Homo sapiens: one gene and its partner. The protein of the gene in region 2 purifies or fractionates together with the protein of the main gene of each other region. This does not show direct contact. Each region holds a gene or a part of one and is shown on either strand. Other genes may lie near its edges.

What was found.
Region 1: the proteins of SLC30A6 (region 2) and MYO18A purify together in Homo sapiens (affinity purification with mass spectrometry; 3 studies listed by BioGRID and IntAct, with this or other methods). This does not show direct contact.

Annotation. Positions count from the first base shown.
Region 1 is NC_000017.11:29,170,399-29,178,517, reverse strand, and holds part of MYO18A (unconventional myosin-XVIIIa), read left to right. Parts: intron 1-1,744; exon of another isoform or gene 1,745-1,946; intron 1,947-8,119.
Region 2 is NC_000002.12:32,217,016-32,226,254, reverse strand, and holds the end of SLC30A6 (zinc transporter 6), read right to left. Parts: intron 6,043-9,239; coding exon 5,542-6,042; 3' UTR 1,876-5,541; downstream 1-1,875. Other genes in the region: NLRC4 (NLR family CARD domain-containing protein 4), read left to right, coding at 1,490-1,782. UniProt on the Homo sapiens protein: Has probably no intrinsic transporter activity but together with SLC30A5 forms a functional zinc ion:proton antiporter heterodimer, mediating zinc entry into the lumen of organelles along the secretory pathway.

The DNA.
Region 1 (8,119 bases), on a different chromosome or scaffold from region 2:
TTTTGGGTTGAGGACATGGGGGTTGTGGCCTCAATTCCAGGAAAACCATGGCTTTGGGGGCAGCTATTGTGTTGAGGGATTAGGGGAATGAGAAGGGTTGTAGGTGGGGGTGGAGGGTGGGCATGGGAGGGGCCACAGGCTGGCGGTCACTTCCTTTGGGAGCTTTGAACTTTGAACAGTTGATGACCTGGTGCCTGGTAGCTCTGAGTGTCTAGTTTGTTTACTCTCTCCTGGCCTGGCCCAGGTGCCAGAGTGTGTGCCTGAGGGCTTCCTCCTGCGCCCCAGACTTTCCTCATGTGGGTTATGCCCTTCCTGACTCCCACCTGGTCTCTCAGCCTCACTCCTGGGCTGTCTGGGTAGCCAGCCAGTTCCCTGGAGGCCCCCTCACTGGCCCTGGTAGTGGCTATTCATTGAGGACTGCATGTGTCTTCAGAAACTGGGCCTGAAAACTCTGGGTCCCCCAGAGGCAGGTACCTAAAGGTGGACTGGGTGGGGCAGAACTGGGGCTCATGTGAAAGGGAGAATCCACCCTGCTGAGGTGGAGCTGGGAGTTGTTGGAACTCAGGAAGCCTTCATCTGGACTTGCTGTGTCACAGGTCTTCAGGGCAGCAGGGCTGTTCTTAATCCTTCAAACCAGAGGTCTCTCCTCAGCCAGATCCTCTCACCTGGGGTGGACGCCACAGGCAGGAGCCAGAGCATCCACGTGAGCTGGGTTTTGTTGGTGGCCTGGGGTCCCAGGCCTGAGTGTGGTGGGAAAACTGAGGGGCTCTGGCTGGTTGTAGTTTAAAGGTTTGGGGCAGTAGGAGGGCCCAGCCCACTGTCTGCTGTAATTGACAGGTTCCCACAGGACTTGGGATTGGTAGGGCAGCTTGATGGAGTTTAAGTTCTGCTTTGGGTCAGACCCCCGGGTGCTTTAAGATCTGCACACCCCACCCCATCACCATTTCTTCCCCCTAGCATTTTCCAAGGTGGCCTGAATTAGAGGAGTTGGGGAGGTGCCGAGGTAGGAGCTGGATTGGGAGGGGTGGTGAGCAGACCTGGTGAGCCTCCACTTCCCACCTTCACTTCCCTGCCCTTCTTTTGAGGTAGGAATTGCAGGGCTTGTAAAATGTCAATTTCCCTTGACATTTTAAACAGTTTAGAGTCAGGCAGCAGTTTTGGTTGTTAGACTGATGATTTTACAGGACCCAGGGCCCTTTCTGTCTGCCAAGTAGTTTATCATCACTTACAAGAGATTATTGTGATTATTCTCTAATATTCAGAGAGGTTGGATGATGGGCTGAAGGTCACACAGCAAGTCAGAGGCAGAGCGGGATTACAACCTGCAGTGTGTGGTTGAGCAGAATAGCTCTCCAGCAGAGGCTGAGGGCCAAATCTGAGCTGTCAGGCCCTTGAAGATAACTGTAGCTGAAATAGTGGAGGCTTAGAGAGGGGAGGGGACTTGCTCAAGGTCACACGGAAGGGGATGTTAGCGGAACTGAGCGCCAGGCGGTGCACCTGGAAGAGCAGCAGGGAACCTGGCGAGGCCGCAGGAGCTCTCCCGCTCGCGTTCCTCCATGGCCCGCGGGATTGCTGCCTTCCGGGGGAGATGGGATCGCAGCGGGAGGCGCCGCGGGGCTGCGGCTGCGCCGGCCCAGCCGCGGGGAAACGCCAAGGGCCGCCCGGCTCCCCGCGCGGCGGCGTGAGGGCTGGCTAATGTCACGTGAGAAGCGTGCAGTCGGCGTGAGGGAGCACACCTGGAGCCAGATAAGCTCCGTGTGACCTGGCAGGGAGTCACCCGGCGCTGCGGAGCTCAGCACAGCCGGCCGGGAGGAGGCTCCCCCTGGAGCACGGGGCCAGGCCAGGTGCTGGCTACCCCTCCGGCCGCTGCTACAACCCTTGGCGAGGGGCAGAGCGCGGGGAGAGAGCCGGGGTCCCGGGGCTGGAGGAAACGGCCGCTCAGGGAGGTCAGAGGCCAAGGGAGAGAGGCCGGCTCTCTCGGGAAAGTATTTCCTTTGTATTTATTTATGAGTGTGGTCTGGGGGTGGGGGTGGGAGGACTGACCTAAGTATCTATCCACCACAGCCAACTCTGGGCACCCTTGTCTTGGGACTCTAACGTTATAGTTTCCATTTCCTGGGTTTTTTTTTTCTTTTGCCAGCTGCTAGGTGACCCATTTAAATGTGTCCCCACTTACAGCCACAAGACACCAGTGAACTCTATTTTAACCAAGTCCCCCAAGCCACTGAAACTTTTTCAAGACATGAAGGCAATCCTTAAACTGACCATTACCCTGTTTGCAGCTTTACTGCTGGTGGATTGCCTACTAGTTTGTCCATTTTTTTTTAGTCTGGAAAAAAGTTGAATCATTAGGTAGAAAGCTAAAGCGTTACTAAAGTGTTACCCTTCTTCTCCCCTACTCTCCAGAGATGACCACTGATAAATTTTTGGATCGAATTTTTCCAGACTGCTGTTTTTTTTGAGAAGGAGTCTCGCTCTGTCACCCAGGCTGGAGTGCAGTGGCGCAATCTTGGCTCACTGCAACCTCCGCCTCCGGGGTTCAAGCAATTCTCTGCCTCAGCCTCCCGAGCAGCTGGGATTACAGGCGCCCGCCACCACGCCCGGCTACTTTTTTGTATTTTTAGTAGAGACAGGGTTTCACCATCTTGGCCAGGCTGGTCTTGAACTCCTGACCTCGTCATCCACCTGCCTCGGCCTCCCAAAGTGCTGGGATTACAGGTGTGAGCCACTGCGCCTGGCCAGACTGCTTTTTAAAAGCTTGTTATATATATTTTAGGCACTATATATGTTTATAGTTTAATATATGTTTTATAAAATATCATCTTATATAAATATTTAAAAAATTTCTGTAGTAGGCCGGACACAGTGGTTCACACCTGTAATCCCAGGACTTTGGGAGGCTGAGATAGGCAGATTGCTTGAGCCCAGGAATTTGAGACCAGGCTGGGCAACATGGCAAGACCCTGTCTCTACAAAAAATACAGAAGTTAGCTGGGTGTGGTGGCGAGTGCCTGTAGTCCCAGCTACTCAGGAGGCTGCGGTGGGAAGGATCGCTTGAGTCCCAGGAGGTTGAGGCTGCAGTGAGCCGAGATCGCACCACACTCTAGCCTGGAGGACACAGTGGGACCCTGTCTCAAAAAAAAAAAAAAAAAAGATGAAATAAAAGTAGAAGAAAAATGATAGATAATTCCACTCCCTGAAGCTCCTAGGTGTAAGCAAATACACATTTACCAGATGAATGTTCTTATAAAAAATTAAAATATAGCCCGAGTGCGGTGGCCCATGCCTATAATCCAGTACTTTGGAGGCCAAGGTGGGTGGACCACTTGAAGCCAGGAGTTCAAGATCAGCCTGACCAACATGGTGAGACCCCATCTCTGTTATTTAAAAAAAAAGAAAAAAAATTAAAATATGGATGAAACACAAGTCTATTTGACCCTTCTAAAATTCCAGTCTCCTCCCCAGAGCATATATTTTTCCTACACATATGCAAATATTGTACACAACGTACATGTAATATATTCATGCACATATATAGATATAGGTTTTTAAATTTTAGCAAAATTATAAACTATCCTGCAACCTATTTTTTCACTTAACAATATAGTATAGAATCTTTCCAGGTCAGTGTATACAAATCTACTTCATTCTTTTTACTTTTAATTATACAACTGCTCAGTTGTATAATTTAGCTTTTTTTTTTGAGACAGAGTCTCGCCCTTTCGCGCAGGCTGGAGTGCTGCAATGGCGTGATCTCGGCTCACTGCAACCTCCGCTTCCTGGATTCAAGCGATTCTCCTGCCTCAGCCTCCTGAGTAGCTGGGATTACAGGTGCGCCACTACGCCGGCAAAGTTTTGTATTTTTAGTGGAGATGGGGTTTCACCATGTTGGCCAGGCTAGTCTCGAACTTCTGACCTCAAGTGATCTGCCTGCCTCAGCCTCCCAAAATGTTGGGATTACAGTTGTGAGCCACCATGCCCAGCATTTTATTTTTTTTTATTTTTTTTATTTTTTGAGACATAATCTCCCTCCACCCAGGCTGGAGCACAGTAGCACGAATCTTGGCTCATGCAGCCTTGACTTCTAGGCTCAAGTGATCCTCCCACCTCAGCCTCCCAAGTAGCTGGTATCACAGGTGTGCACCACTGCCTAGCTACTTTTAAAAAATTTTTTTGTAGAGTCAGAGTCTCACTGTGTTGTCTAGGCTGGTCTCAAACTCCTGGACTCAAGCAGTCCTCCCGCCTTGGCCTCCCAAAGTGCTGGAATTAGAGGCCTGAGCCGCTGCACCTGGCCAGTTTTACTATTCTCTAGTAAGGACTTTTATATTTATAGACTTGCTATTATAAACAATGCTGCAAGGATTAGCCATGTATATTATGTGAATGTACCTATAGATGTCTTATAATGGAATTGCCCAAAGAATATGTACATAAATATTTTCATATGCCAGGTGCAGTGGTGGTGCCTGTAATCCTAGCTACTCAGGAGGCTGAGGCAGGAGGATTGCTTGGGGCCAGGAGTTTGAGACCAGCCTGGACAGAATAGCAAGAACCTGTCTCTAAAACAATTTTTAAAAAGTTAGCCAGTAATGGTGGCGCACACCTGTAGTCACAGCTACTCAGGAGGCTAAGACAGGAGGATCACTTGAGCCCAGGAGTTCAAGTCTGTAGTGATCTATGATTGAGCCACCAAACTCCAGCCTGGGTGACAAAGCAAGACCTTGTCTCTTAAAAAAATTTTTTTTTTTCACAGATACCACTGACTTGACCTCTGAAAATACATTAGTTGGTGCAAAAGTAATTGAGGTTTTTGCCATTAAAAAGTAACGGCAGGCCGGGTGCGGTGGCTCACGCCTGTAATCCCAGCACTTTGGGAGCCGAGGCGGGCGGATCACGAGGTCAGGAGATCGAGACCATCCTGGGTAACATGGTGAAACCCCGTCTCTACTAAAAATACAAAAAATTAGCCAGGCGCGGTGGCGGGCGCCTGTAGTACCAGCTACTCGGGAGGCTGAGGCAGGAGAATGGCGTGAACCCGGGAGGCGGAGCTTGCAGTGAGCAGAGATCGTGCCACTGCACTCTGGCCTGGTGAAAGAGCAAGACTGCGTCTCAAAAAAAAAAAAAAGGGCCGGGCGCAGTGGCTCAAGCCTGTAATCCCAGCACTTTGGAAGGCCGAGGCAGGCAGATCACCTGAGGTCAGGAGTTCAAGACCAGCCTGACCAACATGGAGAAACCCCGTCTCTACTAAAAATACAAAATTAGCCGGTCATGGTGGCGCATGCCTGTAATTCCAGCTACTCAGGAGGCTGAGGCAGGAGAATTGCTTGAACCCGGGAGGCGGATTGCAGTGAGCTGAAATCGGGCCATTGCACTCCAGCCTGGGCAACAAGAGCGAAACTCCGTCTCAAAAAAAAAAAAAGTAACGGCAAAAACCATAATTACTTTTGCACCAACCTACCAATTTGTGTTTCCACCAAGACTTATGAGACTCCCTGCATCCCATGCCCTAATTGATTGATATTATCAACCTTGATAGTTTTTACTAAACTGCTAATTGAAAATAGTATACCTCAATTTCACATGTCTGTGAATGTTATGGAGGCTGAATACCTGTTCATGTTTGATGGCCATTTGTATTTCTGCCCCTACAAATTGCCTGTCCATAGTATCCTTGGCACTAGCTACGTGGGCCCTCTGGACTCAAGCCAGTGTGATCCAGCTTGGCCTTGTGCTTATCAAGTTACCTTCACTTCTTTGGGCTTTACTTTCCATGTACAAAGGTTTTGACTTATTTTAGTCATACTTGTGTACTCTGTTATCCTCTCTACTGTGTCATTTAGACTGCAAAAACTGTGCCCTGCTACTATTAGGTACCTCTCTGAGGGTAATTAAATATATTTCATTTAATTCCCCCACCTTAGGTGGTAGGTACCATTATTATCTCCATTTTTATAGATGGGGAAATGGAGGCATGGAGGCCTTAAGTGATTTGCCTGAGATTTCATAGCTATTTACTCATATTTTTTTTCATTTTTATTTAATTTTTTTTTTTTTAGACAGAGTCTTGTTCTGTCGCCCAGGCTGGAGTGCAGTGGCATGATCTCGGCTCACTGCAACCTCTGCCTCCCAGGTTTCAGCGATTCTCCTGCCTCAGCCTCCTGAGTAGCTGGGATTACAGGCGCATGCCACCATGCCCAGCTATTTTTAGTAGAGACAAGGTTTCACCGTGTTGACCAGGCTGGTTTCGAACACCTGATCTCAGGTGATCTGCCCTCCTCGGCCTTCCAAAGTGCTAGGATTACAGGCGTGAGCCATTGCGCCCGGCCCTGTTTACTCAGATTTGTTCACAGGTTTGTTACTTGATATCCAAAGCCTGAGCTCTGACACTGGGCTTACTTATCTTTATGTTGCTTGCCTTTAGGAAGTGGCTGATAGATACATATTTTTTCCCAAAATTTTATCACAATGACCTGCAAACATTCAGAAAAGTTAAAGAATTTTGCAACGAATACCCTCCATTTCCTAGATTCTACAATTAACATTTTCCTATCCTTGCTTTTACACATCTGTATCCCTTGATCCATCCATCAGGCTATGGTTTTTTTTTTTTTTCTTTCTTTCTTTTGAGACAGGGTCTTACTCTGTTACCCAGGCTGGAATGCAATGGCATGATCGTGGCTCAATGTAGCCTCGACCTCCCAGGCTCAGGTGATCTTCCCACTTTAGCCTCCCAAGTAGCTCCCACAGGCATGCACCACCACATCCAGATAATTTTTTGTATTTTGAGTAGAGACAGGGCTTTGCCATGTTGCCCAGGCTTGTCTCCGACTCCTGAGCTCAAGCGATCTGCCCGTCTCGGCCTCCCAAAGTGTTGGGATTATAGATGTGAGCCACCTTGCCCAACCTCATCAAGCTGTCTTAAAATTTTACACATCTCAAAGTAAAACGTAGACATCAGTATATTTCGCCCCAAATACTTTAACATACATATCATTCACTAGAGTTCAATATTTGTTTATAGTTCTTTTCTTTTGAGTGGATATTTACAAACAATGAATGCACAAATCTTTTTTTTTTTGAGATGGGGTCTTGCTCTGTCTCCCAGGCTAGAGTGCAGTGGCGCAATCATCTTGGCTCACTGCAACCTCCGCCTCCCAGGTTCAAGCGATTCTCCTGCCTCAGCCTCCCTAGTAGCTGGGACTACAGGTGTGTGCTGCCACGCCCGGCTAATTTTTTTTATTTTTATTAGAGACGGGGTTTCAGGATGGTCTCGATCTCTTGGCCTCATGATCCACCTGCCTTGGCCTCCCAAAGTGCTGGTATTACAGGCGTGAGCCAACGCGCCTGGCTGAACGCACAAATCTTATGTGCACCATTTGATAACTTGACAAGTGCATATACTTATCAACCCAAACCGCTATCAATATACAGGACATGAATATCACCCCAAAAAGTTCCCTCATGCGATCCCACTCCTACCCCCACCATAGGTTAGTTTTGCCTGCACTAGAACTTCATATAAAGAGAATCATACCCATATGTGCTCTTTGTCAAAGACTTCTTTCCCTCTCACTTGACATCATGATTTTGAAGTCCATCCCCATTGTGTGTATCTTTAGTTGTTTCTTTTTTCTTGCTGAGTAGTATTCCATTGCATGAATATGAGCATTGTTTATGCACTCTGATGGACAGATAGATGTATATTTGAGGTTGATGGTCATTGCCTTCGGGATGCTTACTCTCTTAAAGTGATAGAGCAGCTGAGTTGACAGATTGTACTTTCTTTTTGTTTTTGGGGATAGTAAGAGCAAGATTATTCGGGTCCATACCCTAACTTACATAGATGCCTTCCTTTTCTTAAAATTAGGAAAAACTTCTTAGAGTATGATGAGGAGAGAAACGCAGAAAAGGAGGTCAGGAAAATTATAAGGTTACCTTTACTGGAGTGGAGGGAGAGGGTAGGAGAGGAATGGGAGGCAGATGGAAACTGCAGCCCGGGATAGGGGGTAGGAAGGTAGTGGTATCAGAGCTGTTGGAGACTTTGGACCTGAGGCCAGGAGGTGCCGGAAAGTGCAAGGTCTACAAGAAGGCCATGGAGCAGCAGTCGCATTGCAGATCT
Region 2 (9,239 bases):
CTCTCACTACGGAGCTGGTAAACACCTTTACTGAAAGTGGGTAAGGGTATAGTTTCAGTGCATAACTAGGTTGACCTCACCCACGTAAGCTGGTCGGACAAGACTGTCCATTTCTGTCATTAAGCCCTCATTACTGGTAGCAGATACCTTTTAGTCTTTGCTTGCTAACCTTAAGGTTGTACAGCACCGAATCTTTCCTTCTTTAACTTGAACTCTTTAGTGGTCTTCTCACTGAGACAATGGAAAGGAACTTTTAAAACCTCTTTTCCTACTTGGAATCCAAACTGAATCATGGACCTTCATTTCCATAAGGGTCAGTTTCTGGAACATTATCTAATATTACACATCTCCCAAGAAACACAAGTTTAATATACAACAAATTAACCCTCCAAAGTTGGGTGAGGTACACTAAGACTAAGATGAGCTCGGATGAGCCGAGTAATGTGGATTGATAAACCAGGCATACATCTTCTGCATTTTGTGTGTGATACTCTGGAGTATAAACATGTAAGTAAGAGTTCCCATGTCCAGTCTGCCTGTCTGTCCACTCTGTACTTCAAGGTGAACTTAGTCATCCAGAAAGGGCCAGGTAGGTGGGTAGGGCTAACGCTTTGCACAATTTAATATGTGTAATTAACACAGAGCTAGTTTTGTGAAATCCTAATGTTGTATACTGGCCAATCTGTATGATGGTAAATAACCTGAAAGAAAGGTATTTTTTCTTATTGCAAGACTCACTTGGGTTCCAGTACCACCTAAACTGGTAACATGGGATAAAGAATGAACACTAAACTATTTGTGTATGTATACACACACACACACACACACACACACACACACACACATCCTTTGTATGTATGTGTGTGTGTGTGCATTCTTTGTGTATCAGAAAGACAGGATATCCACCTACCCTATGTAGGAAATACTTTAGGTGCCCTATTCTGTAAGGAATGGAGGAACTTCCTGAAGAGGCTCGGGAGGGTTATACATAAACAGGTAAACAAAAACACCCAAATCTTTAGATACTGAAGGAGGCTCACTTACTCAAGTTTACAGTTAGGAACATACCCATAGAAACAACAGTTAGGTGGTGTTTACTTTTTCAGAAGAGGAAACGACTTAATATTGCCAAAGATTGACTCCAGTTTTGAAAACAAGTACTGAATATTTAATTAAAGCAACCTTCCATTTCCTAGGAGTAAGGAAAAGGGGAAAAAAAAGTAATTCATTTACATATTGTTGCTACCTCACTACGAATCACTATTTATCAGATTCCCTTATACTCTAGGAAAATATAATAGACCATATTCACAATCACTGCCCTAGCTATAGAGAATTATATTAATAATTTCTTTCTGAGGCAAAGCACTGGTTCAAACATGGCCATTTCAGAGTGAAAAAAAAGTATGTAAAATAAATGTAGAACCTATTTCTCTTTTTTTTTAAAAAAAATTTTTCTTCCAACTAATATACTTATTTCTTTACCCAGGTGCATTTTTTGGAAAGAACCCTCTGAAAAACTTCCAGCAGTTGAATTTGGCGGGAAATCGTGTGAGCAGTGATGGATGGCTTGCCTTCATGGGTGTATTTGAGAATCTTAAGCAATTAGTGTTTTTTGACTTTAGTACTAAAGAATTTCTACCTGATCCAGCATTAGTCAGAAAACTTAGCCAAGTGTTATCCAAGTTAACTTTTCTGCAAGAAGCTAGGCTTGTTGGGTGGCAATTTGATGATGATGATCTCAGTGTTATTACAGGTGCTTTTAAACTAGTAACTGCTTAAATAAAGTGTACTCGAAGCCAGTAAGTGCTCTGGGACCTCATTATTTTAAGCCTGGTAGTTAAAAAAAATCTTGCAAAAGGATGCCAAAGAAGATAAGGACGTGGAAAGAAGTTTAATTTGATGATTAAAAACATGCAACAGTTTTGTGTCTTAGCTCTCCTACTAGGATTATCGGCGCCTTGAAGGAATTCTCATTCATCTTTGTGTTACCTTTGGTCTGGGTCACACCAACTGGTATACTGAATGCATATTAACTTAGTATAGTGCCTGGCATGTAAGAGATTCTCAACAATATTCTCAATAAATATTCGCTGAATATGAGATAAATTATTAATAGCTACTGAATAAAGAAAGATTATTTAAAACCAGAGAGGAAACTCCATATATGTTCTTTAATCCAAACAGTTTAATTCAAGCAATCTGGAATATAAAAAGCACTTTCTGATATTAGAAGGAGATCAGACTCCCAAAAAAGATCAGCATTCTTTAGTCAAGCAAAACTTGGAAGTTTACAAACAGCTAAATCAGAAGCTTGAAATTCAGGTCCTCTCCAGTACCTGCTACATTATATGTAATTCCAAACATGACTTCAGAGATTAAAGAAGAAAGGGAAGATGTTTCCCATTCTTTTGTACCCTATATAAACTAAGGGTACCCTGCCCTAATCTTTTTTCCAACACTTCCCCAAATAACCCTTCCTTACAAAGAAAGAAGTCTAAGAGAACTCTCTCATCTAAATATATTTAAGTAGAGGCAAGCCTGAAAAAAACACAAAAACCTAAATGGTGTTAGGCTGTGGTTCACCTATTCTCATGGCACCTCAAATTAATGGCTTGGGTGTTGGTGTAGGTAACGCTTGGCCTGTATGTTGAGGTAGTCACTAGATAAAATTCTGGGCACAACATCCGTTTAGCAATTGGGCATACATTCTACAGATTTAGCCATAACGTTTTGAAGCTGATTATTTTACAGATCAACTAATTAATTCCTCTCCCTAACTTTACAGATGAGAAAGCTCAGATGATTTGCCCATGGGTTATAAAACTACTTCCTTACACAGTGGCAGCATCAGAACTGGAATTCAGATCTCTTGCCTCCTAGGCAGTGTTTTTCCTATTATAATATGGTGACTTCGTAAAGCAGGGTTAATTACATTCCACAAAGCTTACATCCTAATCACAAACAATGGGACAAATATTTAAATTGAACTTCTTTCTCTGTCTAGCTTCAAGTGATTCTGTGGCAAGATTTACTAGTAAGGCTGCTGCCTATAGGCCTATGCTGGGCAAGTTCCTTATTTTCATATCCAGAAGTTAGTCAGAGCTTGGCAAATAAGACTTCTCTATATAATAATGCCTGGCCCAATGTCCCCTGTAACATCTTACATGCAGGACGTAGGGCCAATTCTTTCATAACCCACAGGCAACTGTGAGTGTCCTTTCTCAAATAGTGAAGGTAGGTATTAAAGCACCTTTGGTGGGACAGATGCACAGGTGTTGCCTCTGAATTGGTGTTGAGGAAGTAGGCATAAAACCTCACACAGAACTGTGTTTGGTACCTGAACACTTTAAAATCCTATGGGGATGGGGAAGACATGCATGGGGTGGCAGCACATACCTCTTAACCATAACTCAGGACACGGCAGTTCAGATTTCATGCATGACCCTAATTCATATTTAGTTGAGATCAATGGAGGAAGAAGAATCATCCTGTAATAGTAGACCAATAACAGATACAGTAATAGTTGGAAAACATAAGATAAAGGCCAAGGAACAGGTTGCCTTATTACATTTTACGAAGTATCATTTTCCCCAGTAGTCAAGGTAGTGTAGGCTGTATTTCTTTAGCAGGTCACATGCCTGAACAGGGGTTGCAGATGCCAAAGACAATGACCAACTCCTCACTAAGAAAAAGGTATTTAGGACATGGTCACTTATTACCACAGATGACAATTCTGCTTGACAGAGATGGCTTCTTGGATGTTTTTAATCCACAGTGAAGAAAAAGGATTTCAAAGTGCTGCTCCTATTTGAAAGTGAATGAGTTGACTGAAGAAACTGTTGCAAAAGAAAAACAAAAATCTTCTCTAGATAGCTGGCTGATGGCTGGGAAAGTCATAAATCTCCAGGAGCATTGGATTCCAGGAAAGTTAAGTCCATTCTCAAAATCCCATTTTAAAACTGTTATGGAATGCATAATAAAATAAAACAATAAAAAACCCTCCTAGGTCATGTGTGACTGCTGCTTGTTATACTTTTTGGAAGTAATACTAGCCATGTTAGAAAGTCCTTAAACTCTGCATTTGGAAAACAACTAAAAAATAACATAATCTATGTAATTCTCACATTTCATCACAGTTAACAATTTCCCATTTTTGACAAAGCAAAACAAAAAGAAACTGCCCACTGCAGACCTAACAATGCTGTATTCTATAATCTAAGGTCCATTATGCTTTGGTAAAATTATATATGCTCAAATTCTTTGTGCAACTTGAAAAGACATCAAATTCCATATTATGTATGGAACTCCATGTGTTTTGGTAATATATCTGATATATTTTGTTAATAAAATAAGAAATTAAAAAGCCAATGAATGAAAATGTGTCAGGAAAGATAAATTCATTATGTCAGTATTTGATTAAATGTAACATAGAAAATTGGGATTCTTTCACTGCATATCACCAAAAGTTGGGTAGTCACTTAATCAAAATAAAACACTGAGAACCATGGACTATTTACAAATGTACTAAAATTTTTAAAGGAGAGAAACTTTAACAAAAATCTTGATAATTAAAAATTCAAATTGTGCTAGATAGAATGTATTCCAAAATTTCTGCTAAAAATTTTTGCTTTTAGTTTGTAAGACATAATTCAGGAGAACCTCAAAGAAAAATTTAGCAATTAAGTTTGGAAAAGCTATAAAAGAGACTTTTACTTTTTGAACAGACATTTTTCCCTTTCCCAAAATGTGTATTATTCAAGAAGCATATTTATAAATTTCATTAAAGAAAATATCGGCCAGGTGCGGTGGCTCACACCTAATCCCAGCACTTTGGGAGGCTAAGGTGGGTGGATCATGAGGTCAGGAGTTCAAGACCAGCCTGGCCAACATGGTGAAATCCCCCGTCTTTACTAAAAATACAAAAATTAGCTGGGCGTGGTGGCAGGTGCCTGTAATCCCAGCTACTCGGGAGGCTGAGGCAGGAGAATCATTTGAACTCAGGAGGCAGAGGTTGCAGTGAGCTGAGATCATGCCACTGCATTCCAGCCTGGGCGACAGAGTGAGACTCCATCTCAAAAAACAAAACAAAACAAAAACTAAGGAAGCCTTAATAAAGTACAGCCTTAAGTTAATAATAATGTATTGGCCGGGCACAGTGGCAGAGCAAGACTCCGTCTCGGAAAAAAAAAGAAATATCGTATCTTAGTAATGTGACAGATCTACTCCATCAAGTGGCTCTTATAAAGGTAAGGTCACATCACACTGCAGTCAACTACAAAACCAAAGATACCAAAATCCAAATTTAAAGAAACACATTTTCTAAAGGAAGCCTATTTAAAGCCTTTAACATTTACGAGGATTTCACTGTCACAAATACATTTTACAAAAATATAGTTTCATAGGTTTCATGAAATGTGAACAAGACTACTATTATCTAACATTTAGAGTAAATGATTAAACAGTCAATGCAAAGTTGGATTACTAAATAAATTGGAAGCCAAGGAGTCAATATTCCTTATAAAAATAAGTTAGAGTCTATCATGGTCTTGGTTGTCCAATTCTATTATTAGTTCCATATCTACTTGGTATATTTGTAAAACCAGTCCTCAATCCTTGAGTTGCTCCAATTCCTGGAACTCCAAGTCCTTGATTAAGCATGCTGCTGTAAGGTGTGTGTCCATGATTGAGACCAAAACCATAAGGCCTTGTTTGTGTGTTTAGAAGAATAACTGGGTTCACATTTTTCCCAGGAGTGTTAAATGAAAATTCTGGAGGTGGACTACTAGGTTTAGCTGGAGTTGATGTAACTGGGTTCAAATCATCAGTACCCTTTAAAAGAGGCATTGGGATTACGTGATGATCTGAAAAGTTTAGGACATTGGCTGCAACAGGCCCAGACAATAAGGCAGGCCTAATCCAGTCATCCTTGAAAATTTGAACAGTTAGAGTAGACACTAGAGTGTACAGCCTGTTGGTCACATGAGCAAGAACCATTTGTTCATTGGCATCTCGTCGAATTCTTACATGCACTGATCCAGCCTAAAAGGGGCAAAATCATAACAAAGAGATTGCTTAGAATTATACTAACAAAAAATTCATTAGATAAAACATTTTATTTATGATTTGGTAAGTTCCTGGCATTTTCTTTGAAAGAAAAAGCTTAATGTTAATATTTCTTAAAGACTACTTGCTGGTGATTATCATTGTAATGAGTTAAATAATTTGTGAATCTTTAAAATACAAAAAAAGAAATATCCATGTAGGAACAAGATAGGAATATTATAATACAAGGAAGAATATAAATGAAACATACAAAAAATACAATGTAAGAGCCGAAAAGGTAGGTATTAATTCCAATTGAAGAGGACTTCAAAAGAAGATGGCATTTAATCTACGGTTGGTGATTAAACAGAATTTCAAAAAGTAGAGACGCATTCCACACTGAGGGAAAAGCAATGAAAATGTATGGCATACTTGGTAAGAATAAGCAATAATACCAATATATAAAGAAGTCCTGGCCGGGCGCAGTGGCTCACATCTGTAATCCCAGCACTTTGGGAGGCCGAGGTGGGTGGATTACCTGAGGTCAGGAGTTCGAGACCAGCCTGGCCAACATGGTGAAACCCAGTCTCCACTAAAAATACAAAAAATTAGCCAGGCATAGTGGCGTGTGCCTGTAATCCCAGCTACTTGGCAGACCGAGGCAGGAGAACAGCTTGAACCCAGGAGGCGGAGGTTGCAGTGAGCCAAGATCGCACCACTGCACTCCAGCCTGAGTGACAGAGTGATATCCTATCTTGAAAAAGAAAAAAAAGAAGTCCAAGTATTTCAGGGGGCAGAAGAAGGAGGAGGGAGAGAGAAGAGAGGGAGAGAAGGAAGAGAGGAAGGAAAGAAGAGAAGGAGAAACAGAGGAAAGGGCTGGGTGTGGTGACTCACGCCTGTAATCCCAGCACTTTGGGAGGCTGAGGTGGGCGGATCACCCCTGACGTCAGGAGTTCGAGACCAGCCTGACCAACATGGTGAAACCCCACCTCCACTAAAAATACAAAAATTAGCCGGGTGTGGTGACATGTGCCTATAATCCCAGCTACTCAGGGGGCTGAGGCAGAAGAATTGCTTGAACCTGGGAGGCGGAGGTTGCAGTGAGCCGAGATCACGCCATCGCACTCCCAGCATGGGAAGAGAAGAAGGGAAGAAGGAAGAAAGAAAAATGATAGGTAGGTAATAAGGTTAAAAAGAGGCTACCAGAGGACTCTAAAATGATAAAGAATTTCAATTTAACATCTGCAACCTAACAGAAATAAATAATCAGAGTTCAGAAAAATTGTAGGTATAGATGACTGGAAATCAGGTAGGAAAAAAACTTCAACAATCTAGATTATAAATGAGGAGAGCTGCCAAGTGCAGTGGCTCATGCCTATAATCCCAGCACTTTGGGAGGCCAAGGCAGGTGGATCACCTGAGGTCAGGAGTTTGAGACCAGCCTGGCCAACATGGCGAAATCACGTCTCTACTAAAAATACAAAAATTAGCTGGGCATGGTGGCATGCACCTGTAATCCCAACTACTCAGGAGGCTGAGGCAGGAAAATCACTTGAATCCAGGAGGCAGACGTTGCAGAGAGCAGAGATCATGCCACTGCACTCCAGCCTGGGAGACAGAACAAGACTCTGTCACAAAACAAAACAAAACAAAACAAAACAAAACAAAACAAAACAAAACAAAACAAAAGAGGAGAGCTGAGCCAGGCCAAAAATAGTGGGATCAGAGAGGGACAGACAGATATATCATATTCCAGAGGTAGTAATGGAAGGACTTGATACCCAGCTGGAAGTAAAGGATGAGGAAGATTGACTCATCAAAGATGATATCAAGGCTTCTAAGGGATAGAGAACACCAGGCATTACAATGAGAGTTAGAAGTATATTTGTTAACTTGAAAAAGTGTTTACCATAAATTATGGGTTTTTTTGGTTTTGTTTTTTTGTTTTCTTTGTAGAGATGAGGTCTCACCGTGTTGCCCAAGCTGGTCTCGAACTCCTAGGTTCAAGCGATCCTCCTGCCTCAGCCTCCCAAAGTGCTGGGATTACGGGCGTGAGCCACCATGCCCGGTCCATAAATTATGTTTTTAAAGTAGATAATCAGCAAATGATCCTATTTTGGTTAACACAAACACACACACACAGACTCCCCCAGCCTGAGCAACATGGTGAAACCCCATCTCTACAAAAAATAAAAAAAATTAGCTGGGCGTGGTGGCACACATCTGTAGTGCCAGCTACTCAGCTACGCAGGAGGCTGAGGTGGGAGAATTGATTGAACCTTAGAGGTCGAGGCTGCAGTGGCTGCACCACTGCACGCCAGCCTGGGTGACAAAGAGAGACCTTGTATCAAGAAAAAAAAAAAAAGAATTCAATCCCATTTACAATATCCACAAAAGAAATAAAATACCTAGAAATACATCTAACCAAAGAGGTGAAAGATCTCTACAAGGAGAACTATGAAACACTGCTCAAAGAAATCACAGATGATACAAACAAATGGAAAAACATTCCACGCTCATGGATTGGAAGATCAGTATCATTAAAATGGCCATATTGTCCAAAGCAATCTATAGATTCCATGCTATTACTATCAAACTACCAATGTCATTTTTCATAGAAGTAGAAAAAAATATTTTAAAATACATATGGAACCAAAAAAGAGCCCAAATAGCCAAAGAAATTCTAAGCAGAAAGAACAAAGCTGGAAGCATCACATTACCTGAATTCAAACTATAAGGCTACAGTAACCAAAACAGCATGGTACTGGTAAAAAGACAAACACATAGACCAATGGAACAGAATAAAGAACCCAGAAATAAAGCCACATACCTACAGCCATCTGATCTTTGACAAAGTCAACAAAAATAGGCAGTGGGGAAAGGACTACCTATTCAATAAATGGTACTAGGATAGCTAGCTAGCCATATGCAGAAGAATGAAGCTGGACCTTCACTTTCACCATATAAAAAGATTAACTCAAGATGGATTAAAGATTTAAATTTAAGACCTCAGCAGGGTGCTATGGCTCATGCCCTGTAATCCCAGCACTTTGGGTGGCCGAGGTAGGCAGATCACCTGAGGTCAGGAGTTCAAGACCAGCCTGACCAACATGGTGAAACCCTGTTTCTACAAAAATGGAAAAAAAAAAAAAAATTTGCCGGGCGTGGTGGCAAATGCCTGCAGTTTCAGCTAC